3 linked regions of the Homo sapiens genome follow. The protein of the gene in region 3 purifies or fractionates together with the protein of the main gene of each other region. This does not show direct contact. Each region holds a gene or a part of one and is shown on either strand. Other genes may lie near its edges. The genes, in order: DNAJC12, FLNC and ERI2.

What was found.
Region 1: the proteins of ERI2 (region 3) and DNAJC12 purify together in Homo sapiens (affinity purification with mass spectrometry; 3 studies listed by BioGRID and IntAct, with this or other methods). This does not show direct contact.
Region 2: the proteins of ERI2 (region 3) and FLNC purify together in Homo sapiens (affinity purification with mass spectrometry; 2 studies listed by BioGRID and IntAct, with this or other methods). This does not show direct contact.

Annotation. Positions count from the first base shown.
Region 1 is NC_000010.11:67,835,189-67,843,306, reverse strand, and holds the start of DNAJC12 (dnaJ homolog subfamily C member 12), read left to right. Parts: upstream 1-5,118; 5' UTR 5,119-5,295; coding exon 5,296-5,373; intron 5,374-8,118. UniProt on the Homo sapiens protein: Probable co-chaperone that participates in the proper folding of biopterin-dependent aromatic amino acid hydroxylases, which include phenylalanine-4-hydroxylase (PAH), tyrosine 3-monooxygenase (TH) and peripheral and neuronal tryptophan hydroxylases (TPH1 and TPH2).
Region 2 is NC_000007.14:128,846,675-128,854,405, forward strand, and holds part of FLNC (filamin-C), read left to right. Parts: intron 1-70; coding exon 71-231; intron 232-1,022; coding exon 1,023-1,190; intron 1,191-1,270; coding exon 1,271-1,394; intron 1,395-1,886; coding exon 1,887-2,043; intron 2,044-2,118; coding exon 2,119-2,308; intron 2,309-2,506; coding exon 2,507-2,530; intron 2,531-2,656; coding exon 2,657-2,904; intron 2,905-3,301; coding exon 3,302-3,400; intron 3,401-3,487; exon of another isoform or gene 3,488-3,709; coding exon 3,710-3,809; intron 3,810-4,128; coding exon 4,129-4,269; intron 4,270-4,557; coding exon 4,558-4,686; intron 4,687-4,726; exon of another isoform or gene 4,727-4,780; coding exon 4,781-4,954; intron 4,955-5,916; coding exon 5,917-6,078; intron 6,079-6,153; coding exon 6,154-6,357; intron 6,358-6,610; exon of another isoform or gene 6,611-6,723; intron 6,724-6,794; coding exon 6,795-6,947; intron 6,948-7,040; coding exon 7,041-7,163; intron 7,164-7,299; coding exon 7,300-7,542; intron 7,543-7,731.
Region 3 is NC_000016.10:20,802,950-20,811,312, forward strand, and holds the start of ERI2 (ERI1 exoribonuclease 2), read right to left. Parts: upstream 3,524-8,363; 5' UTR 3,482-3,523; coding exon 3,459-3,481; intron 722-3,458; coding exon 654-721; intron 568-653; coding exon 484-567; intron 1-483. Other genes in the region: REXO5 (RNA exonuclease 5), read left to right, coding at 4,005-4,142.

The sequences.
Region 1 (8,118 bases), on a different chromosome or scaffold from region 3:
CACATTTTTATAAAGAAATACCTGGCCAGGTGCAGTGGCTCATGTCTGTAATCCCAGCACTTTGGGAGGCTGAGGCAGGCGGATCACAAGGTCAGGAGTTTGAAACCAGACTGGTCAGTATGGTGAAACCTTGTCCCTACTAAAAATACAAAAATTAGCTGGGCATGGTTGCTTGTGCCTGTAGTCCCAGCTACTTGAGAGGCTGAGGCAGAAGAATCGCTTGAACCCGGGGGGTGGAGGTTGCAGTGAGCCAAGACTGCGCCGTCGCACTCCAGTCTGGGTGACAGAGCAAGACTCCATCACAAAAAAAAAAAAAAAGAAAAAAGAAATACCTAAGTCCGGGTGCAGTGGCTCATGCCTGTAGTCCAGCACTTTGGGAGGCCAAGGTGGGTGGATCACGAGGTCAGGAGTTCAAGACCAGCCTGGCCAAGATGGTGAAATCCCATCTCTACTAAAAAATACAAAAAATTAGCCAGGTGTGGTGGCAGGCGCCTGTAATCCCAGCTACTCAGGAGGCTGAGGCAGAGAATTGCTCGAACCCAGGAGGCAGAGGTTGCAGTGAGCTGACATTGTGCCATTGCACTCCAGCATGGGCGACAGAGTGAGACTCTGTCTCAAAAAAAAGAAAAGAAAAGAAAAGACATACCTGGGACTGGGTAATTTATAAAGAAAAGAGATTTAATTGGCTTATGGTTCTGCAGGCTGCACAGGGAGCATAACACAGGCATCTGCTTTTGGGGATACCTCAGGAAGCTTGCAATCACAGCAGAAGGTGAAGGGGGAGCAGGCATCTCCTATGGTGGGAGCAGGAGCAAGAGAGACAGAGAGTGAAGTGATACACACTTTTGAACAGCCAGATCTCAGAGAAGTCACTCATTTTTGTGAGGACAGCATCAAGAGGATGGTGCTCAACCATTCATGAGAAATCCAGTCCCATGATCTGATCACTTCCCACCAGGCCTTACCTCCAATACTGAGGATTACAATTCAACATGAGATTCAGGCAGGGAGACTTTCCAAACTATGTTAAAGTTCCAACCTCCCATTTCCCCTCTGCACTGCCCTAGTAGAGGCTCTTGGTGAGGGCTCTGTCCCTGTGGTAGGCTTCTTCTTGGGTACCCAGGCTTTCTTATATATTCTCTGAAATCTAGGAGGAAGCTGCCAAACCTCCTTCACTCTTGCATTCTGAACACCTGCAGGCTTAACACCACATGGAAGCCACCCAAGGCTTACAGCCTGCACCCTTCTGAGCTGTGGCCTGAGCTGTACCTGGGCCCCTTTGAGCTGAGGCTGGGGCTGAAGTGGCTGGATGCAGGAAGCAGCCTCCCATAGTGGTACAGGGCAGCAGCACCCTGAGCCTGGCCCCCTAAATCATTCTTTTCTCCTGGGCCTCTAGGCCTGTGATGAGAGGGGCTGCCTCTTAGATCTCTGAAATGCCTTTGAGGTTTTTTTCTCATTGTCTTGTCTATCAGCCTCTGACCTGGCTCCCTTTCATTTATGCAAATCTCTTTAGCAAGTGGTTGCTCTGCAGTCTGCTTAGATTCTTGCCCTGAAAATGGGTTTTTGTTTTCTACCACATGGCTAGGTTGCAAATTTTCCAAACTTTTACATTCTGCTTTCCCTTTAAATATAAGTTCCAACTTTAAGTCATTTCTTTGCTTCTGCATCTGAGGATAGGCTGTTAGAAGCAGCCAGGTCACTTCTTGAACACTTTGCTGCCTAGAAATTTCTTCTGCCAGATACCCTAAGTCATCACTCTTAAGTTCAAACTTCCACAGATTCCTAGGGCATGAATACCATATAGCTTTGTTCCTTGGTAAGGCATAACAAGAGTGACCTTTATTCCAGTTCTCAATAAGTTCCTCATTTCCATCTGAGACCTCATTAGCCTGGACTTCACTGTCCATATCACCGTCAGCATTTTGGTCACAACCATTTAACCAGTCTTGCAGGAGTTCCAAACTTTCCCTCATCTTCCTGTCTTCTTGTGAGCCCTCCAAAGTCTTCCAGCCTCTGCCCATTACCCAGTTTCAAAGCTGCTCCCACTTTGTCAGGTATCTTTATAGCAAGGCCCCACTCTTTGGTACCAATTTTTTGTGTCAGGCCATTCTTGCATTGCTATGAAGGAATACCTAAGACTTGGTAATTTATACTGAAAAGACGTTTAATTGGCTCACAGTTCTGCAGAATGTGGAAGCATGGAGCCAGCATCCGTTCAGCTTCTGGGTAGGCTTCAGGGAGCTTTTACTTATGGCAGAAGGTGAAGTGGGAGTAGACATGTTACATGGTGAGAACAGGAGTAAGAGAGCCAGGGGGAAGATACCACACACTTTAAAAACTTTTAAGCCGGGTACAGTGGCTCACCCCTCTAATCCCAGCACTTTGGGAGGCCACGGCGGGTGGATCACCTGAAGTCTGGAATTTGAAACCAGCCTGACCAACATGGAGAAACCCCATCTCTACTAAAAATTCAAAATTAGTCGGGCATGGTGGCACATGCCTGTAATCCCAGCTACTCAGGAGGCTGAGGCAGGAGAATCACTTGAACCCAGGTGGAGGTTGCGGTGAGCCAAGATCACACCATTGCACTCCAGCCTGGGCAACAAGAGTGAAACTCTGTCTCAAAAAAAAAATTATATTATTAATATAAAAATAAGGACAGAGTCTCACTATGTTGCGCAGGCTGGTTTTGAACTCCTGGGCTCAAACAATCCTCCTGCCTTGGTCTCTCAAAGTGCTGGGATTACAGGCATAAGCCACTGCAACTGGCCAATACCACACTTTTTTGTTTGTTTGTGTTAGACAAGGTCGTGCTCTGTCACCCAGGCTGGAGTGCAGTGGTGTGATCTCAGCTCATTGCAGCCTCCACCTCCTGGGTTCAAGCAATTCTCGTGCCTCAGCCTCCCAAGTAGCTGAAATTACAGGCATGTGCCACCACACCCAGCTAACTTTTTTGTATTTTCAGTAGAGATGAAGTTTTGCCATGTTGGCCAGGCTGGTTTCGAACTCCTGGCCTCAAGTGATCTGCCTGCCTCGGCCTCCCAAAGTTCTGGGATTACAGGTGTGAGCCACCATGCCCAGCCCTAACATTCCATTTGTTTAGTCATCCGTTGATGGACACTTGCATTGCCTCCACTTTTTGGCTATTATGACTAATGCCTTGATGAACATGAGTATATAAATATCTTTTCAAGTTCCTGCTTTCAATTCTTTTGTGTATTTACCCAGAAGTGGAATTGTGGGGTCACATGGTAGTTCTATGTTTAATTTTTTGAGGAACCACCATACTGCTTTCCACCATGGCAACTTCACATCATTAAAAGGCCATTTATCAGTGATTTAGATCAAGATATTGTGATCTAATTTTTTTTTTTTTTTTTGAGATGGACCCTGGCTCTGTCACCCAGGCTGGAGTCCAGTGGCACGATCTCGGCTCGCTGCAACCTCCGCCTCCCAGATTCAAGCAATTCTCCTGCCTCAGCATCCTGAGTAGCTGGGACTACAGGTGCGTGCCACCATGCTTGGCTAATTTTTGTATTTTTAGTAGAGACAGGATTTCATCACATTGGTCAGGCTGGTCTCGAACCCCCGACCTCGTGATCCGCCCGCCTCGGTCTCCCAGTGCTGGGATTATGGCATGAGCCACCGTGCCTGGCCTTAAAATTCTATATAGAACTTTTAGCAAGACAGCATGTACAATGAAGGATTAGTAAAAAATGGTGTTTCAGTGCTTTTTCTTGCTTCTCTTCAGAAATAAACCTTTAAAAAGATGTATATAGGTGGGCTAAAAGAAAAACTATTTTTTCCCCTCAGGTGGGGGAATTTAAAGTGTTAAGGGCCAGGCATGTTGGCTCACATCTGTAATCGCAGCACTTTGGGAGGCCAAAGTGGGAGGATCACTTGAGTCCAGGGGTTTAAGACCAATCTGGGCAATATGGCGAGACCCTGTCTCTCTGAAAAATGAAACAAAAAAAGTGTTAAGGCAGTCAAAGTGTTGTGTCCCTGACCACTCACCTTGTTCTCTAAATCCCAGACCTGAACTGTGTTTCTTAGGGCCAAAATGAACTGAAACATAAATTGCCTGGACCTACCTCAGACTAGAGACACTCCTGAGTCTGGAGAACCAACCCAGGAGAAATAGCACAGCCATCTGACCCGAGTTATCATACAGTTCTTCTCATTGTCCTATTTTATTTTCTCTAAAGCACAAATCACTATTTTATTTTTTTATTTTTTGAGATGGAGTCTTGCTCTGTAGCGCAGTCTGGAGTGCAGTGGCACCATCTCGGCTCACTACAGCCTCTGCCTCCTGGGTCCAAGTGATTCTTCTGCCTCAGCCTCCCAAGTAGCTGGACTACAGGTGTGGGCCACCATGCCTGGCTTACAAATCACTATTTTAAATGATCGTGTTTTTTTTTTTTTTTTTTTTTTTTGCATGTTTTTCAGCTGTCTTCCTCCATCAGAGCGTAAGCTCCATAAAAATCAAGACTGTGTTATTGGCTGGGCGCTGTGGATCATGCCTGTAATCCCAGCACGTTGGGAGGCCGAAGCAGGCAGATCGCTTTGAGCTCACGAGTTCGAGACCAGGCTGGGCAACATGGCAAAACCCCCTCCTCTTAAAACATAACAAAACAAAAACCAAAAATTAGCTGGACATGGTGCTATGTGCCTGTGGTCCCAGCTACTAGGGAGGCTGAGGTGGGAGGATCGCTTGAGCTGGGGAGACAGAGGTTGCAGTGAGCTGAGACTGCACCACTGCACTCCAGCCTGGGCAACAGAGTGAGACCTTGTCTGAAAATAAACAAATAAAAAATAAAATTAAGTATTTTAAACACTAAGAAAAGCTCCCATTATCCTTATTAACACATCCTAAGATTTTACCACATTGCTTCACATTTTTTTTCTTTTTTTTTTTTAAAGGATAGAGACAAAAATATATAGGAGATGGAGAAGTGGCTAATGTGGCAAGTTTCTGAAAATAGACAGTCTTTATTAACTCATAAGACAAATGGTTCACATGCATCTCTTATATAAACTCAAACTACAGATCCCAGGCAGCACTGCAATAATAGACACGTGGACTGTTCTTTTCTTCTCTGTAAACAGCCAATGAGAGGCAGAGTTTACAAAGGTCTAGGATGACATCTGGTGTATTGACTGTGGCCAGTCTTAAAGCTAGTTTTTGCTATGTGGAACATGCTGCTCTAATTCAGATTTAAAGAGTTTCTTCCTGTTAATTCGAAGCTCACTGTGCCTCTTGTTTCCGAGGGAAGAAGGACTGATTAAGTCATCTAAATGGATGCAATACTGAATTACAGGTCAGAAGATACTGAAGATTACTACACATTACTGGGATGTGATGAACTATCTTCGGTAAGACAGTGGATAATATTTTTATCACAACAGTATTCTTTTTCACAATAGTATTTCAAGTTTTTATTTAAGGTTTTAACTTTGAATTTTTAGTCACATTGCCTACAAACCTAACCTTGTGTTGTTTTAAAGCACTTTTGGCTCAGAGAAAGTTAAGAATTTAAATGTATGTTGGGATTTTACTTGAATAGTGTCCTATGGGAATTTTACGGAAGCTTCTGATTAAATATGTGTATTCTGGCACATGGCCATATGCTGTTTCACAATATAGTATATTAAAAATAAATATTTGAAATTTTATTGTAATTTCTGATGGCAGTGTTTCACAGTATATATAAGCTATACCTTTATTATGGTGACTCATAATTGAGGTGAAATGAAATTTCTTATAAAATTAGGGATTTTAATATATTTTATTAAAATGTGTACTCCTATGTGAGCAGTCAAAATAGAAACAAAGAAGCATCCCTTTATGTTAATATTTCAAATTGTGTGACAGAAATTACTTCTTGAAAGGGTGGCTTCTGAAACAAAACATGTGAAAACTCTGTAGCTGTTCACTGGATCTGTAAGAAAACAAAATTTTTAAAGTTCTCAATAAACAATTATAAAGGTTGTAGAGGTTTTTTAAATTATGGAAAAATCATTTATAATTCTCTCTCCCAAGGATAACAGTATTAATATTTTGGCATATTAATCTCCACTATTCTTTCTATGTATATTCTTTAAAGACCTGTTTGGGAGGATATTATATGTACTTGTTGATTCCTGCTTTTTACCCATTCGTATTATAACAAGGAATTTTCCATGCTATTAAACTTTCCTTGTACACTTTTTAGTGGTTGCAAAATATTTTATTTTGCTGTGTTACCACAGTTGAATTATTCTCTTATTGTTAAATATTTTATTTCCAATTTTTCAATATTTCAAATAATGTTGAGATTAATATAAAATATATTCATTATTAAATTATATATTATTAAATCATGTTATTAGGATATATTTATGTTTTATAATTAATGTATTTTATTTTATTTATTTTTATTAAAATCTAAGTAGTAAAATTAACATTGTAAAGCAAAATGTTTTTATATTTATTGTTGTTTCATAAAGGCAGTAGTTCATTAATAAAATGTGCTTAGTTTTGTTTTAAGAATAGAATGCATTACTGGACACAAAGGATTAAAATCTCTATTTTTGCCATGCTGAGGAAGTTATCTTAGACACGTTGAAATTAAAAAAACTGCCCCGCCCCCAGAATAGCTTATAATGGTCTTTTAGTTGCATATTTCTTCTCAAGAATGTGTTATTCTTGTTTATGTTGGTGGTGATTTGCTTATAGCAATTGAGAAAGCTTATTACCATTTTTACCATGTGTTATTCACAGTTGAAATTATACTATTATCAAACAATTTTTGAAGGAATAATTTAAAATCAAAGGAATATAATTTAACTTGATAAGGCTGACAATTTGGATTTAAAAAAATACATGCTAGCTTATACAGTAAGGGTCATTATATCTCCATAATCTTGTGACCTATTTAGTCAGTCCTTTTTTTTTTTTTTCAATTTTACTTTAAGTTCTGGGATCCCTGTGCAGAATGTGCAGGTTTGTTACATAGATACACATGTGCCAGGGTGGTTTGCTGCACCTATCAACCCATCATCTAGGTTTTAAGCCCCGCATACATTAGGTATTTGTCCTAATGCTGTCCCTCCCCTTCTCCCCCACCCCCCGACAGGCCCCGGTGTGTGATGTTCCCCTGCCTGTGTCCATGTGCTCTCATTGTTCATCTCCCACTTATGAGTGAGAACATGTGGTGTTTGGTTTTCTGTTCCTGTGTTAGTTTGCTGAGAATGATGGTTTCCAGCTTCATCCATGTCCCTGCAAAGGACATGAACTCATTCTTTTTTATGGCTGCATAGTCAGTCTTTTGAAGTTATGCTGTTGTCTTTTCAATCTACATAGAAGGAGGATTCATTTTGGACAGCCTTACAGAAAATAATCTCGTTGTTAATGTGTAATATTCAAAATATGGTTACCAGGTGGAGTCATACTTCCTTGTCTCAACATTCCTTTTACTGGATGTATTTTACTGGTCTGTCAATGGCATATCATATCTAGATAACAATTATTTATTTTTAATGAAATGTTTGTCATAATATTGTCACTTCTTTATATATATGTGTGTGTGTGTGTGTGTGTGTGTGTGTGTCATTTTTTCTCTCTTTTTTTTGTTTTTTTGAGATGGAGTCTCACTCTGTTGCCGGGCTGGAGTGCAGTGGTGCAATCTCAGGTCACTGCAACCTCCGCCTCCCAGGTTCAAGTGATTCTCCTTCCTCAGCTTCCTGAGTAGCTGGGACTACAGGCACATGCCACCATGCCTAGCTAATTTTTGTATTTTTAGTAGAGACGGGGTTTCACCGTGTTGGCCAGGATGGTCTTCATCTCTTGACCTCGTGATCTGCCTACCTCGGCCTCCTAAAATACTGGGATTACAGACGTGAGCCACCGCACCTGGCTTTTCTCTTCTTTTTATAGGTATGCTTCTCATTTCAAAAATATTTTTATGACATTTTTGACTAATATGACATTTCCTTTACTTGATTTGTATTGGATAGATTGCCTTTACTTCAGGTATTCCTTCATTTGATGCTCTAAAATTAACCAGAACTCATCATGCCCGAAAGCATTTTAGCTGTTATAATTTCAAAACAATTTGATATTCTAATTTTACTTATCAC
Region 2 (7,731 bases), on a different chromosome or scaffold from region 3:
CCCCATTCAGCTACTCCCTCATCCTCACTCACTGGTCTTATGAAGCTGATGGGGGGATGTTATCTCTCAGGGGAGCGGGCACCGGGGGCCTTGGCCTAGCCATCGAGGGTCCCTCGGAAGCCAAGATGTCCTGCAAGGACAACAAGGATGGTAGCTGCACCGTGGAGTACATCCCCTTCACTCCTGGAGACTATGACGTCAACATCACCTTCGGGGGGCGGCCCATCCCAGGTGTGCAGAGAGAGTGGTCGGGGTCTCAGGGAAGACAAGGGAGGGTGCAGGATGCTCGCCCCACAAGGGGGAAACTGGAAGGAAGTTGGGTAAGAATGTTCATAGAGAGGACAGCCTAGAGTGGGTTGGGGCCGGAGCCCGGCCAGAGGGAGGACGTGGAGGAGGCAGGCAATGAGGGTTGATGTGACAGCCCCCCTAGTCAATCACAGGAACACACTCTGGCCTCCTAGCCCCTTGTCTGGAGCTCAAGACCTTGGCTTTGCAGGTCCACCACTCACTGTGTGTCCAGAAACTCAGACACAGTCCACTCCTCTTGGCGGCTCAGGCCAGCCTTGGGCCTTCTTGCACGCATCGTCTGCAGAACTCCCCTGCCCTCTGCAGACCCAGCTGCCCGGGCAGGTCATGTCTTCAAATATTGTATGACTTGGGACTGCTGAAATTGGAAATTTTTTCCCTTATCTAATTTCCCATCTTTTTATTATTTCAGCCACAGTGTCAGAAATACATTTCATTTTTGAAAACATTTTATTTTCACATTTTATTAATTTAGGAAGGCCTTCTCTTCCAGGCCTGGGACCCACATGAGTGAGGTTTGCCCAGCCTCAGTCTGCAGTCAAGTTCATTTATTCTTGTGTGTGTTTTCTTAGCAAGTTCCTAGCCATTTTCCCATGTTGGTCTGGCTTCCCTGTGGGCATTTCAAAGGCAGGGAAGGCCTCCTCCTCCGAGGCTCCTCAGCATCAGGGGGACCCATCAGGGCTGGTGGGCAGGGTCTAATGTCCTTCTCCTCACAGGGAGCCCGTTCCGCGTGCCAGTGAAGGATGTGGTGGACCCTGGGAAGGTGAAGTGCTCAGGGCCAGGGCTGGGGGCTGGTGTCAGGGCCCGGGTTCCTCAGACCTTCACAGTGGATTGCAGTCAAGCTGGCCGGGCGCCCCTGCAGGTGGCTGTGCTGGGCCCCACAGGTATAGAATGGCCGGGGCAGGGAGGAGGGAGGTGGGGCGGGACGCCCGGAGGCTCTGCTGACCCTGTGCCCCTTGCCCAGGTGTGGCCGAGCCTGTGGAGGTGCGGGACAATGGAGATGGCACCCACACTGTCCACTACACCCCAGCCACTGACGGGCCCTACACGGTAGCCGTCAAGTATGCTGACCAGGAGGTGCCACGCAGGTGAGGACCAGCCCTGGGCTCCTGTGCTGCGGCTGAGCTCTGGGGTGCTCCTGCTGGGGTGGCACTCAGGATCACTGCTGGAGTCCCCTGGGAGAGCCTCTCCCAGCTCTCAGCCTCGTCCAGTCTCGCCACCCCATCCCGCTCTTCCCCGGGGCTCTCTGCTGTGAGGCTTTCCTGCCCCAGGAGCTTTTACGGCAAACCTAGCGCCTTAGGAAGAGTGCAGGAGGCCTGGGCCAGGGCCTCCTCCTGGACCCTCCCACAGCACCTTCCTGGGGAATGGAGACGTACCCTGGCTCTGTCGAGGGAGTCCCAGAGTGCCCCCACCCCCAGACATGGAATGTCATCGGCTTCTGGGAACTGGTCCCTCCTCCCTGCCCCACAGTCCTCCCTCCTGCCCATGTCTATGGGGAGGACTCTGGCTCAAGATGAGATCACCCCCCACCGCCCCGTCCATGCCACCCAGCCAACTGTTTATCCCTTCTGCTCCTCAAGCCCCTTCAAGATCAAGGTCCTCCCAGCTCATGATGCCAGCAAGGTGCGGGCCAGCGGCCCAGGCCTCAACGCCTCTGGCATCCCTGCCAGCCTGCCTGTGGAGTTCACCATCGACGCACGGGACGCGGGCGAGGGGTTGCTCACTGTCCAGATCTTGGTGAGTCTCTGTGCATCCCACCCCGCAGGTCATGCTCCAGGCACAGGCGGGCCTTGACCTCTGCTTCTCCCTCAGGACCCCGAGGGTAAGCCCAAGAAGGCCAACATCCGGGACAATGGGGATGGCACGTACACTGTGTCCTACCTGCCGGACATGAGTGGCCGGTACACCATCACCATCAAGTATGGCGGTGATGAGATCCCCTACTCGCCCTTCCGCATCCATGCTCTGCCCACTGGGGATGCCAGCAAGTGCCTCGTCACAGGTGGGTGCCCACCCGCTGCCCGTGCCCTGCTCACCACCCAGCCCCTCAAAGCCCCTCCAGAACCCTGGCCTGGTCCCCAGGGGTCTGCTGGTCGGAGAGCACACATGCCCTAGCCCTGGCCCCTCCCTCCCTCACCCCCGCCCAATGCCCCAGCCCACGTTGAGCACCGCCTGGCCTCACACTCTTCTCTCTTTCCAGTGTCCATTGGAGGCCATGGCCTGGGTGAGTGCCCTTTCTCTCCTCTTCTTGGTGTGGGCCAGGGTGGTTGGCGGTAGGGGGCGGGCAGCGGGAACAGAGAGGGCTGGCTCCAGCCCACCAGCTCCCTGAGCAGGATCTCCCGCATGGCAGGTGCCTGCCTGGGCCCTCGAATCCAGATTGGGCAGGAGACGGTGATCACGGTGGATGCCAAGGCAGCCGGTGAGGGGAAGGTGACATGCACGGTGTCCACGCCGGATGGGGCAGAGCTCGATGTGGATGTGGTTGAGAACCATGACGGTACCTTTGACATCTACTACACAGCGCCCGAGCCGGGCAAGTACGTCATCACCATCCGCTTCGGGGGTGAGCACATCCCCAACAGCCCCTTCCACGTGCTGGTAAGTTCTGTAGCCACAGCAAGACTAGATGGCTGGGGAGGGGGGCCTGGCCCTTTTAGCAGCAGCAGGGATCCCAGATAACTGTCCCCAAGGAATCCCACTTCTCTGAGGGCTCCTGGGGCCAGAGTGCTCCAGGATGGAGCCTTAACTTTCCCCACAGCACCCCCGAAGTGGGAGGAGAGCATGGCCCTGCCCCCTGCCCAGTGCTGTCAGCTGTCTCTGGAGGAACCCGCTGTGCTCTCCACCATCCCCAGCTCCATCTCCCCAGAGGCTGCCCTGCAGGAGGATGAACACCCAAATTATCACCCAGCATTTCAGGTTCCTGGGCCATTCTCTGAGTCAGCCCCTAGGCCTGTGAGGCTGCCACACCCTGTGCCCCCGTGCCTTGCCTCCCCAGGCGTGTGACCCCCTGCCGCACGAGGAGGAGCCCTCTGAAGTGCCACAGCTGCGCCAGCCCTACGCTCCTCCCCGGCCCGGCGCCCGCCCCACACACTGGGTACTGCGCCTCCCACCAGGCGATGTCCTCCTCCTCCTCCCCTTCCTTCATTTCTTCTCTCTACTCCTCTGCAGCCAGGGCGGGGACATGGTCTGGGGGCCTCTTGGGGAGCAGGCAAGAGTTAGGCTGGGCAGATGGAACCCCACTTGGGCACAGCACTCCTTCTCTTGCAGCTGACGCACCTCTCCTGCCACGCTGGTTTCATGATTAACTACCTTGTTCTTTCCTCACTCTCCAGCTTCAGTCATAGCATGGGTCAAACTCCTGGGCCTTCCCCAGTCACTGACTGTTCCCTCTCACCTGCTGCAGGCCACAGAGGAGCCAGTGGTGCCTGTGGAGCCAATGGAGTCCATGCTGAGGCCCTTCAACCTGGTCATCCCCTTCGCGGTGCAGAAAGGGGAGCTCACAGGTACTGCCCTGTGGCTCCCAGGCATGAGGGCTGAGGGGAGAAACCCTCTTCCAGGCCCAGTCCTGTGTCTTAATGATGAAAACAAAGGCCCAGAGAGAGGAAGTGAGCTCTACCCAGGGTCACACAGCAAGTTGGGCAGAGCCAGAACTCAGGTGCAAGCCATCTGTCCCCAGTTCAGGGCTCAGGCCACTGCCACAGGCTGTCTCTTGATGCCTGGCTTCTCGGGTGGCAGCAGAAGCACTCAGGACCAGGCCTGGGACAGCAGGGAGGTTGCAGTGGGGGAAACCAGGGTCTCCACGTAACTGTGTCTGCCCTGCAGGAGAGGTGCGGATGCCCTCGGGGAAGACGGCACGGCCCAACATCACCGACAACAAGGACGGCACCATCACGGTGAGGTATGCACCCACTGAGAAAGGCCTGCACCAGATGGGGATCAAGTATGACGGCAACCACATCCCTGGTGAGTTAGGGGCTGGGCTGGGCTGGGGCTTGGGTGAGAGGAGCAGGCCGTAGCTTCAGTCCTGCCTTCCCTCTTTCAACAAATATTTATTGAGCACCCGCTGTGTGCAGACACCAGGCGAGGCCCCAGGGAGGCTTATACCCTGGTGGGAAGCAGACCTCCACCAGCTGGGTCCCTACGGCACAGACGGAGGGGGTTGGCAGGGAGGCTGCTGGAAGGTGCTGGGGCCAAGGTGGGCTCAGATAATCCCTGATGCTGACCCAGCCCCCTTTTTCTCTGTATCCCCAGGGAGCCCCTTACAGTTCTATGTGGATGCCATCAACAGCCGCCATGTCAGTGCCTATGGGCCAGGCCTGAGCCATGGCATGGTCAACAAGCCAGCCACCTTCACTATTGTCACCAAAGATGCTGGAGAAGGTGAGGGAGCTGCAGGTCGCAGGCTGGGGTGGAGACTCACCAGGGGCAGGGGTGAGGGCAGGACCTCTGATCTTGGCCACACCTCCACCTACAGGGGGTCTGTCACTGGCCGTGGAGGGCCCATCCAAGGCAGAGATCACCTGTAAGGACAACAAGGATGGCACCTGCACCGTGTCCTATCTGCCGACTGCGCCTGGAGACTACAGCATCATCGTGCGCTTCGATGACAAGCACATCCCGGGGAGCCCCTTCACAGCCAAGATCACAGGTGAGGCGGGTGTATGGGCATGTACAGCCCATGAGGCACACACACCGCATACAGTGCACTCATGTGCAAGCCCAGCCCGTTCAAGTCACTCGTGACATTAGGGCAGAGGCCCTTCAAGGTGTGAGGGGTCATATTTTGATAAATGTAAAAACACTCTGTTCTCCACGGCAGCTAAGAAGCAGTCAGCCACTCCTTGTGCCTGAAAACACATTGCCTCATTTAGTCTTTGAAGTCATTTGTTTTGTTTTTGTTTTTGAGAGGGAGTCTTGCTCTGTCACCCAGGCTGGAGTACAGTGGCACGATCTCGGCTCACTGCAACCTCCGCCTCCCGGGTTCATGCCATTCTTCTGCCTCAGCCTCCCAAGTAGCTGGGACTCCAGGCGCCCGCCACCATGCCTGGCTATTTTTTGTATTTTTAGTAGAGACAGGGTTTCACCGTGTTAGCCAGGATGGTCTCGATCTCCTGACCTTGTGATCCACCTGCCTCGGCCTCCCAAAGTGCTGGGATTACAGGTGTGAGCCACCACGCCCAGCATGAAGTCACTCTTAAGAAGTTAGGGCACGGATAATCCTTTTGATAGATAAGGAACCCCTGTCCCAGAGAGGCCAAGCAACATGATTACAGCCACACAGCGAGGAAGGGGTCTGGGCGGTCCAGTCTAGTGTTTTGTTATCACAACATCATGTGACTCAGGGTTAAAATGCAGGAGGTTTCCTTTAGGGATTTAGCCCACAAGGACTGAGGCAGCCACAGTGGAATTGGGGTACAGGCCCCTCTTAGTCTCTGGCAGCTCACATGTGAGTGCAGACTGCACTTTCCAGGCCTTGGGCCTCCGTGCACCTGGGAGTGGCCCCCCGTGTCTGTTGAGTCCAGGGGGGGCTGCTCAGGAGGGTTCCTGAGCCCTGTGAGGGCAGGGCCTGCCTGGAGTCATAGCAGCCTGATGCCCCAACTCCCCCACCAGGTGATGACTCCATGAGGACCTCACAGCTGAATGTGGGCACCTCCACGGACGTGTCACTGAAGATCACCGAGAGTGATCTGAGCCAGCTGACCGCCAGCATCCGTGCCCCCTCGGGCAACGAGGAGCCCTGCCTGCTGAAGCGCCTGCCCAACCGGCACATTGGTGAGCGTGGGGCCTCACGGGGACCTCAGGGGTGGGGGCCCACAGGATGCTCTGCCTAACACCCACTTTCCACAGGGATCTCCTTCACCCCCAAGGAGGTCGGGGAGCACGTGGTGAGCGTGCGCAAGAGTGGCAAGCATGTCACCAACAGCCCCTTCAAGATCCTGGTGGGGCCATCTGAGATCGGGGACGCCAGCAAGGTGCGGGTCTGGGGCAAGGGGCTTTCCGAGGGACACACATTCCAGGTGGCAGAGTTCATCGTGGACACTCGCAATGCAGGTACCTCCTGCCCCAGAGAGCCCCCATTCCAGCGGGTGCCTCCCACAGGCACTTGTCCTCGTCCTGCCCAGCACCCCCTTGGCCGCACTCTCTCCTCCCTGAAACTTCCTGACCAGTCTGCGTCAGGATTCGCATTCTGGGGCCCCTTGCGGGAAAGTGAATGGCCCCGCATCAGTTCTCTCCCTTTTAAGAGAAAGCTCAGCTGTCCTGAGTTTCTGTCCCTCCCTTGCTCACTGGAATCCAAGAGGCTTACCTTAGGGAATTTTCCAGACCGCCTGTCCCGTGGTGCCCCCGCTCCTCCCACTGAGCCATTTTTGTTAGTGGTCACTACACACATCGGTGCCCATTCTGGGTGGAGCCTGCAGTCTGGGGAGAGGAAAGCATTGTGGCTTGGCCAGCCTAGGACTGAGGGAGATGTGTTCCTTGCTTTCCCCCAGGTTATGGGGGCTTGGGGCTGAGTATTGAAGGCCCAAGCAAGGTGGACATCAACTGTGAGGACATGGAGGACGGGACATGCAAAGTCACCTACTGCCCCACCGAGCCCGGCACCTACATCATCAACATCAAGTTTGCTGACAAGCACGTGCCTGGTAAGGCTCTGGGCAGAGGTCGGTGGCGAGAGACAGGGAGGCCAGGAGGCTGGGGCTCTGAGGTTCCTGACCCACCCTTTGTCCCCACTTCAGGAAGCCCCTTCACTGTGAAGGTGACCGGCGAGGGCCGCATGAAGGAGAGCATCACCCGGCGGAGACAGGCACCTTCCATCGCCACCATCGGCAGCACCTGTGACCTCAACCTCAAGATCCCAGGTAGAAGCCTGGAGGACCCTGGGTGGGGCGGGTGGTGGGAGAGGGCTGGCCCGGGCCAGAGCCCACCTGTCGGGCCTCCACCCTGCTTCCTCACCCCTCGCTTCCCTCCCTCACCCTGGCTCCCTTGACCACACAGGAAACTGGTTCCAGATGGTGTCTGCCCAGGAGCGCCTGACACGCACCTTCACACGCAGCAGCCACACCTACACCCGCACGGAGCGCACGGAGATCAGCAAGACGCGGGGCGGGGAGACAAAGCGCGAGGTGCGGGTGGAGGAGTCCACCCAGGTCGGCGGGGACCCCTTCCCTGCTGTGTTTGGGGACTTCCTGGGCCGGGAGCGCCTGGGATCCTTCGGCAGCATCACCCGGCAGCAGGAGGGTGAGCACCGCACACTGGGCCGGCCGGGTCCTCACGGCGGGATGGGAGGGTGCTGCGGACCAGGCTTGATGCTGGCAGACTGGCCCCGAAGGCCAGGGCAGGTCTGAGCAGAGGAGGAGGTTTAACTGATGGGGGAGGGAAGGGCCAGGGCTAGGAGGAATCCCAGTGTTGCCCTGACATCCCCCAAAC
Region 3 (8,363 bases):
GTTGAATAAATAATTTTTAAATTAATCCTGTAATCATCCTAAATTAAACATGTTACCATTTTAATTAAACAACCAGTTTTCAGTAAAAGCATACTAAAATGACCAAAGCAGTGTGACATAAAGGTTATAATAAAGTTATGCTAAAGTCAAAATATTGAAGTTATGAGCATGTTGTCTTAAAAGAAAACAATATAATTAAATAAATATAAAAACCATATGGAATATAAAATTTACTTTTTTTGCAAAGGCATTTTTTTCAGTTTCTATGCCATTGAGGTGTTGTATGTAATATAAAACAACTATTTTATATAATAACACATTTAGGTATTTGAGATTTTGCTCTTTTTTATTCAACATAAGTTTTGCATTAAACTACCAATGCATAGACCATCCTGTTTTCTTAAACTTTTGGCTGATTCAGATCTATAAACTTTAAAGTGACTCATCTAGTGCCAGCTTTGGCCATTCGTAGCCCAGACTTACTTATTTCCTGGCTATGGTGGTGCTTCCCATCATTCCAGCATGTCGATTCAAAATCAATGACAATTAAGTAGTCAAACAACTGCTCTGCAAAAGATCAAGTTGTTCTTATGCTTTACCAGTGCTGAAAATGCAAGGCTACAAAATGCAAAGAAACTAAGCATACTACTCACTGGATTTGCTTCTTCCGAGATTTCCATTTGCTGGCGCAATTGACTTTCTCCTAATTAATCCAAGCTGCCTAAAAATGTGAAGCAATCCAAATATGATCAATGAACTCATTCACACTCCTGTTTGAGTAGGCTACCAAACTAATGGTACTGGGCAACAATCTCATTATTTATTGTGACTGAGGGGAAATCGAACTGGACTTTGGCTTTACCTGCACAGGCCTCGAAAGTACATATTTGCAAATTAGGCTAATTTGTTGGTTTTGTTTTTGAGACAGGGTCTTGCTCTGTCACGTAGGTTGCAGTGCAGTGGTATGATCACCACTCACTACAGCCTTAATCTCCTGGGCTCAAGCAATCCTCCCACCACAGTCTCCTGACTAAGACTACAGATGCATGCCACCACGGCCCATTAGTTTTAATTTTTTTTTTTTTTTGAAGGCAGGGCCTCACTATGTTACCCAGGCTCATCTCGAACTCCTGAGCTCCAGCAATCCTCCCACCTCAGCCCCTCAAAGTGCTGGGATTACAGGCCTGAGCCACTGTGTCCAGCCAATTTACACTAATTTTATGTTACCCTTGTTTTACAGTAATACTGAGTAACTCATTTGAGTTCCTACAATCATTTGATTGTAGAGGTAAAAATGCACTGAAAATCTTATTTTTCCCCCTGCATTTTTTAAGCTCTTGCTATGTGTACAGTGCAGTTTTAAGAAGACAAGACAATGTAGGACATGGTTCAGTCTTCCAGTTTAAAAATCTGGGTAAAGAAACAAAAGATAGGGCCAGGTAAAGTGGCTCATGCCTGTAATCCCAGCACTTTGGGAGGCCAAGGCAGGTGGATTGCTTGAGCTCCGGAGTTCGAGACCAGCCTGAGCAACATGGTGAAACCCCGTCTCTACAAAAATTATAAAACCTAGCTGGGGCGTGATGGTGCATACCTGTAGTCCCAACTACTCAGGAGGCTAAGGTGGGAGGATTGCTTGAGCCCGGGAGGTGGAGACTGCAGTGAGCCGAGATCATGCCACTGCACTCCAGCATGGGCAACAGAGCGAGACCCTGTCTCAAAAAAATAAATAAATAAAATAAAATAAGAAAAAAAGAGAAGAGCTTACTGAGGTCTTAAGTGCAAGTAAAACAAACTACTTGGTATTAGCAGGTAGAGTTTTAACTAGGCAGACACCTCCTGTAGTTTTCTGTGTTTGCTAAGAGTGGGAAGTGCCAGGATTTGGGAATAATAAATATCATTTATTGACTGCTTACTACATAGCAGGTACTAAAATTAAACTAAGATGATGGCCTCCTTTAATCCTCAACAAGTGTAGTAGCTAGAAACTTTTCCTACCTATATTTTATGGATGAGAAAACTGATTCTTAATTTGCCAAAGAACATAGCTTTGGTATGTGAACCCAAGACTGTCCAATTCTGAAGCTCATGCTATTTGCTATTATATTACATCTTTCTAGTAATCAGAAATATGCACAGCGCATCCAGGAATCAGGGAGGACACAATAATTCATATTGTGAATTAAAAGGATCACTAGGCCAGGCACCGTGGCTCACACCTGTAACCCCAGCACTTTGGGAGGTTGAGGCGGGTGGATCACCTGAGGTCGGGAGTTCGAGAACAGTCTGACCAACATAGAGAAACCCCATTTCTACTAAAAATACAAAATTAGCTGGGTGTGGTGGTGCATGCCTGTAATCCCAGCTACTTGGGAGGCTGAGGCAGGAGAATGACTTGAACCCGGGAGGCAGAGGTTATGGTAAGCCGAGATCGCACCACTGCACTCTAGCCTAGGCAACAAAACTCCGTCTCAAAAAAAAAAAAAAAGATCACTAGAAAATGGGTTTGTAAAAAGTAGAGGTTCCTCTTCAAAGACTTCCTTCCCCGTCTAATTAGGAATAAATAGTAACTTCTCTTAGAGCAAAATTTATTCAAAGACCTGTGCTAACATTCTTAAATATCTGCTAGATATAATAAAGAAATCAATGTACTTTATGTTCTTAGCTCCCACAATTTAGCCTAAATATTTGCCCTGGCATGCTTATACTGGTCCAATCAAACATTAGGTCATAGCCTGTTCCTCTTCCTTACTTAAAAGTGTTTTTACCTTTCTCAGCATTCCACAAGTTACTTCCTTCTTCCTTTGTTCTCCTCTGCCTTTGCCTCTTTTAAAAAGTTCTATGTTGCTAGTCAGTCGGGACAAATACAGAATGTGAGGTCCCGTTCCAGCCAAAGGAAACCGGACACAGCAGTAGGGTGGACGCGCCACGTTATAAATGACCCTGTCTCCTTTGTTCAGTGTACTCTCCTGGCAAAACTGCTGGCGAGTGTACCCTTTCTGCAGGAAGTAAAAATGGCCTTACTAAATAAATTAAATTTAAGTTTAAGTTCTATTTCTTTACAGCACCGAGGAACGAGCATTTCGAACAGGTTGAACACCTTGACAGATTCAGTGTGTGGCCTGCCTGAGACCTCCAACCAGTCTGCAGGGCACTGTCACGTCCAGTCGTTTCCCAAGGCCTAAAATAGGCAGGCACTGGCTCAAGGCCACACAGTCAAGGCCCCAGGGTTCGTCCGCCTCGGGCTCCTGTCACCCTCGGGTAGAAGGTGGCCCAAGGCTGAAGACCGAGGTCCAGGGAGGCGCCTTTCCAACCGTGCCAGAGAGGGCAGGTCGCAGACGCCGGGGCTGCGGGGAATAGAGGCCCTCACCGCAGATGCCACCTGCCGTGCCCTGCTCTGCGGCCAACGCCAGCGCTGGACCCGGAGCTACCCGCCCCCGACCCGGAACTCCCTCGAGTACCGCGCGAGCCGCTTGGTCGCCATTCCCGACACTCCTTGCTTTTCCAAGTCCAGCTGCCGGAAGTCGCTCGACTTCTACTTCCGGTCCGTTCAAAAAGCCCGCGAGGCTGAGGGGCGGTTGTTGTTGGCAGCTGTGGCTAAGGAGGGGAGAACCTCTGCTCCCCGCCCGTCTTCTCTTCTGCGTTTCCCGGGCTAGGGGGCGTGGGGAGTGGTTTTAGGCGGCGAAGCCGCTCGGCAGCACCTTCCTTCTTTGCCAGGCAGACGCCCGTTGTAGCCGTTGGGGAACCGTTGAGAATCCGGTAACCGATGCGGACGGTAAAGCCGTTTGGGTTAGAGCGGCGCGGGTGTCCAGTCCGCGGAACGGGGAGATCGTTGGCACCTTCGCTTTTTTAGGGGAACGGGGATAGTTCGGTAAACTGAATTGAGAAGCGGATCCGAGGGAGGTTGAAAGCTGTCAAGCCCGTGTAGCTCTCCCGCTAGGAGGCGGCACGCGGGGGAATAGGGGCGCTGGAGTTTCCCCAGCTCTACCTCATCTTTCTCCACAGCCATGGAGCCAGAGAGGGAAGGGACCGAGAGACACCCCAGGAAGGTCAGGGAAAGCAGGCAGGCCCCAAATAAGCTGGTCGGGGCAGCTGAGGCGATGAAAGCCGGTTGGGATCTCGAGGAGAGTCAGCCCGAGGCCAAGGTGAGCAACGGGGATCCCGAGCAGGCGGCCCTAGGCGGTTTGGAGCTCCCGGACCCTCGCCCAACCGCCGTCGGGGGCACTGGATTCGGGCGGGCTCTCCGCCCTGGCCTCTCCGAACCTGATCCCTGATCATTAAAATGGGAATGAGTGTAATACCACCTTCCTGCAACAAGGCTGTCATTGGCTGTCACTGGGATAGTGAGTCGGCCGAGTGCGGTGGCTCATGCCTGTAATTCCAGCACTTTGGGAGGCCGAGGCGGGCGGATCACGAGGTCAGGAGTTCGAGACCAGCCTTGTCAACATGGAGAAATCCCCGTCTCTACCAAAAACACACACACAAAATTAGCCAGGCGTGGTAGTGGGTGACTGTAATCCCACCTACTTGGGAGGCTGAGGCAGGAGAATCGCTAGAACCCAGGAACCAGAGGTTGCAATGAGCCAAGACCACGCCATTACACTCCACCCTGGACAACAAGAAAGAAATCACGTCTCAGAAAAAAAAAAAAAAAAAAAAAAACTGGGATGGTGGGCCGGGTGCAGTGGCTCACGCCTGTAATCCCAGCAGTTTGGGAGGCCAAGGCGGGAGCATCATTTGAGGCCAGGAATTCAAGACCAGCCTGGGCAATATAGCAAGGACCCCATCTCTTAAAAAAAAAAAACAAAAAACAAAACAAAAAAAAAACTGCCTGTACATAATAGGAATGTTCATCGATATCCTGGGGCACAAAAATACAATTCCTTGCCCTCGTGCAGTTTACATTCCAGTAGGGCGGGGGTCCCCAACCCCCTGTGCACAGACTAGTACCTGCCTGTCCATGGGGTCCCCAACCCACTGTCCACAGCTGGCCTGTTAGGAACCGGGCCACAAAGCAGCAGGAGGTGAGCGGTGGCCGATAGAACGTTACCCCCTGAGCTCCACCTAGGCATTAGATTCTCATAGGAATGTGCCAAACCTATTGTGAGCCCTATTGTGAACTTTGCATACGAGGGTCCTAGGTGGCATGCTGCTTATGAGACTCTAATGATAAATGTAATGCACTTGAATCACCCCGAAACCATCCCCCCAGCCCTTCTCCCAGTCAGTGGAAAGATTATCTAACACGAAACCGGTCCCTGGTGCCAACGGTTGGGGACCGCTGCAATAGGGGAATAAAAAGGCTGATTATCCCTATCATCCTTACCATTTACTGAGAACTAAATATACTTCATTCATCCCTTCAGTCGTTCATTGGGCTTTTTTGTTTGTTTTTGTGTTTGAGACAGGGTCTCTGCTCTGCTGGACTCAGGCTGGACTACAGTGGTGTGACAAGGATCCTCCTGTCTCTGCCTCTTACAGGCATGAGCCACTGCACCCAGCTATTCATTGGTTTTTATTGTCTGCCATGTGCTGGGGCACTGACCTAGGTGCTTGGGGTACATCAGTGAATCAAGTTCACTGCCCTAGTAGGTCTTATATTCTAGTGGGCAGAGACAAATGATAAAAATAAGTTATAATATGTGAGAGAGGGATTAGGGATGTGATTTTTTTTTTTTTTTTTTTTTTTGAGGTGGAGTCTCCCTCTGTTGCCCAGGCTGGATTTGGCTCACTGCAACTTTTGCCTCCCAGGTTGAAGTGATCCTCCCACCTCAGTTCCACCAATTAGATGGGACTACAGATGTGTGCCACTGTGCCAGCTAATTTTTCTTTTTTTTGTAGAGACGGGGTTTTGCCATGTTGCCCAGGCTGGTCTTGAACTCCTGGACTTAAGCGATCTGTCCACCTTGGCCTCTGCAAGTTCTGGGATTACAGGCATGAGCCACTGCTTTTTTTTGTTTTTTTTTCGTTTGTTTTTTTTTAAAGAGAGACAGGGTCTCCAACTCCTGGGATCAGGAGATTCACCTGCCTCAGCCTCCCATAGTGCTGGGGATTACATGTGTGAGCCACTGCACCCAGCTGAAAATTTTTTTTATTAAAGTGGGATTCCAGTTTTTTTGCCTATCAAATTTGCAAAAAAATGTTTAATGTTTATGTGGTTAGTGTAAGGAGATTGACAATCACATATTTTGTTATGTTGAAACAATCTCAAACTTTTAGAAAAGTTGTAAGAATAGTATCAAAACCTCCCCTCAACCAACATTTGAAAGTAGTTGCTGACACAATGGTCTTTTTCTACCCACCCTCAAGATATTTTATTATATATTCTCTATAAACCTACATAATCACAATGCAACCATCAAAATTGGAAATTACCATGGATATATCATGACCATCTACTCCTCAGATGCCATCCAAATTTTCTGTAGTTGTTTGAATAACGCTTTTTAGCAATAAGATCCAGTCTAGAATTGTGTTAAATTTAATTGTCATGTCTCCATCAAACAGTTCCTTAGTCTTCCCTTGATATTCATGACTTTACTGCATTTGAATAATCCTGGGCCAATTATTTTGTTGAATGTCCCTTAAATTAGATTTGTCTGTTTCTTCATTGATTAGATTCAGGTTATATACATCTTTAGCAGGAATATCACAGGAGTGATACTCTGCTCCCTTGCAGATTGTACACAATTTGATTTGTCCCATTATTGGTGATATTAACCTTGATAACTAGATTAAGATAGTTTCTACTAAAGTTCTCTAAAGTTATCTTTTTCTCTGTGTAATTTTCATTCTTATTTTTTTGAGACAGGATCTTGCTATATTGCCCAGGCTAGTCTGGAATTCCTGGGCTAAAGCAATCCTCCCACCTCAGCCTCAGTGTAGCTGAGGTTACAGGCCCAAGCCACTGCTCCCAGCTGTCTGTAATGTGCTTCCTCAAACACTTTGGGCTTATGCATTTACTTTTTTATCAGTATGATGAACTCAGTGGTACCTATTTTGTTCAGTGTGTTACTATCTTTTACTGGATTGTGATGCTTTAAATATCCAAGATTTTGTCATTAAGCTAGCTTCTGTGGCCTTTTGACATGACAACATCATTCTTTGAGCATGTCATTACTTTCTGGCACAAGAAGATATTCCAGGCTCATATGTGCTTTCCCTGCCCCAAGCCTGGAATCAGTCATTTCTCTTAGGGTACCTGGTTCTTTTTAGTGTAGAATGATATTTAGATTTGGGTGCTATGGTGATGTTAATACAGATGCTTCTTCACTTAAAATAAGATTACGTCCCAATAAATCCATCGTAAATTGAAAATTTTGTAAGTTGAAAGTGTATACACACACACATACTTACATTTAAATATTTTTCTGTATTTTACTTATGTGAATTCACATCAGTATCTCCACTTTAATCCAAATCCAGTAATACAGGGTTCATTCTATTCATTCTAGTTTTCTCCTTTTTTTTTTTCTTTTGAGACAAAAGTCTTGCCCTGTCACCCAGGCTGGAGTGCAGTGGCATGATCTCTGCTCATTGCAACCTCTCCCTCCCAGCGATTCTCCTACCTCAGCCTCCTGAGTAGCTGGGATTACAGGCACCCACCACCACGCCTGGCTAATTTTTGTACATTTAGTGGAGATGGCGTTTGACCATGTTGGCTGGTCTCAAATTCATGACCTCAAGTGATCTGCCCACCTCGGCTTCGCAAAGTGTTGGGATTACAGGCGTGAACCACCGCGCCCAGTCCATTTTCATATTTGTAACTTCCTTCACTAACAATGAGAAACCCGACACCCAACATCTTCAGTATATTTGATCAATCCTTATTGCTGCCGCTGACCCACCCTCACACCCTCTTGACTCTGCTTAGGCTCTGTCACCCTGCACTGGCTCCATCACCTTGTACCAGGTCATCTTCCTTTGTGAGCACCCTCATCCTATGACAGGTGGCTGCCACCATCCCTCTCAGGTTTATACCCTCATCCTGTTCAGGCTTTAAACCCTGCAACAGGCCACTACTGTCCCTCAGCATTGATGCCCTCCTTACCCTAAATAGTTTCTGACATCTGATGTCAGGACTCACTGCCCTCCCTTCCTTCCTGTATGGGTGACGTCCTTGTGCTGCTGAGGCTTTGACACCCCACACCAGAGCACCCTCCTGCATGAATGTCCTCAGCTTCTGCTCCTAGTCCTGGACTGTCTCCTCTACAGGACACCTTCCTCACCCAACTCAGGCTCTTGACATCCCATGCCTGGCAACCAGGGTTACTCACCGCCATATAGACTCCATCTTGCTCAGTCTCACCTTATTAATCTCATGTTTTTATTTGGTAAAAACAAACTGGCATATTCTTTCAGGAGTT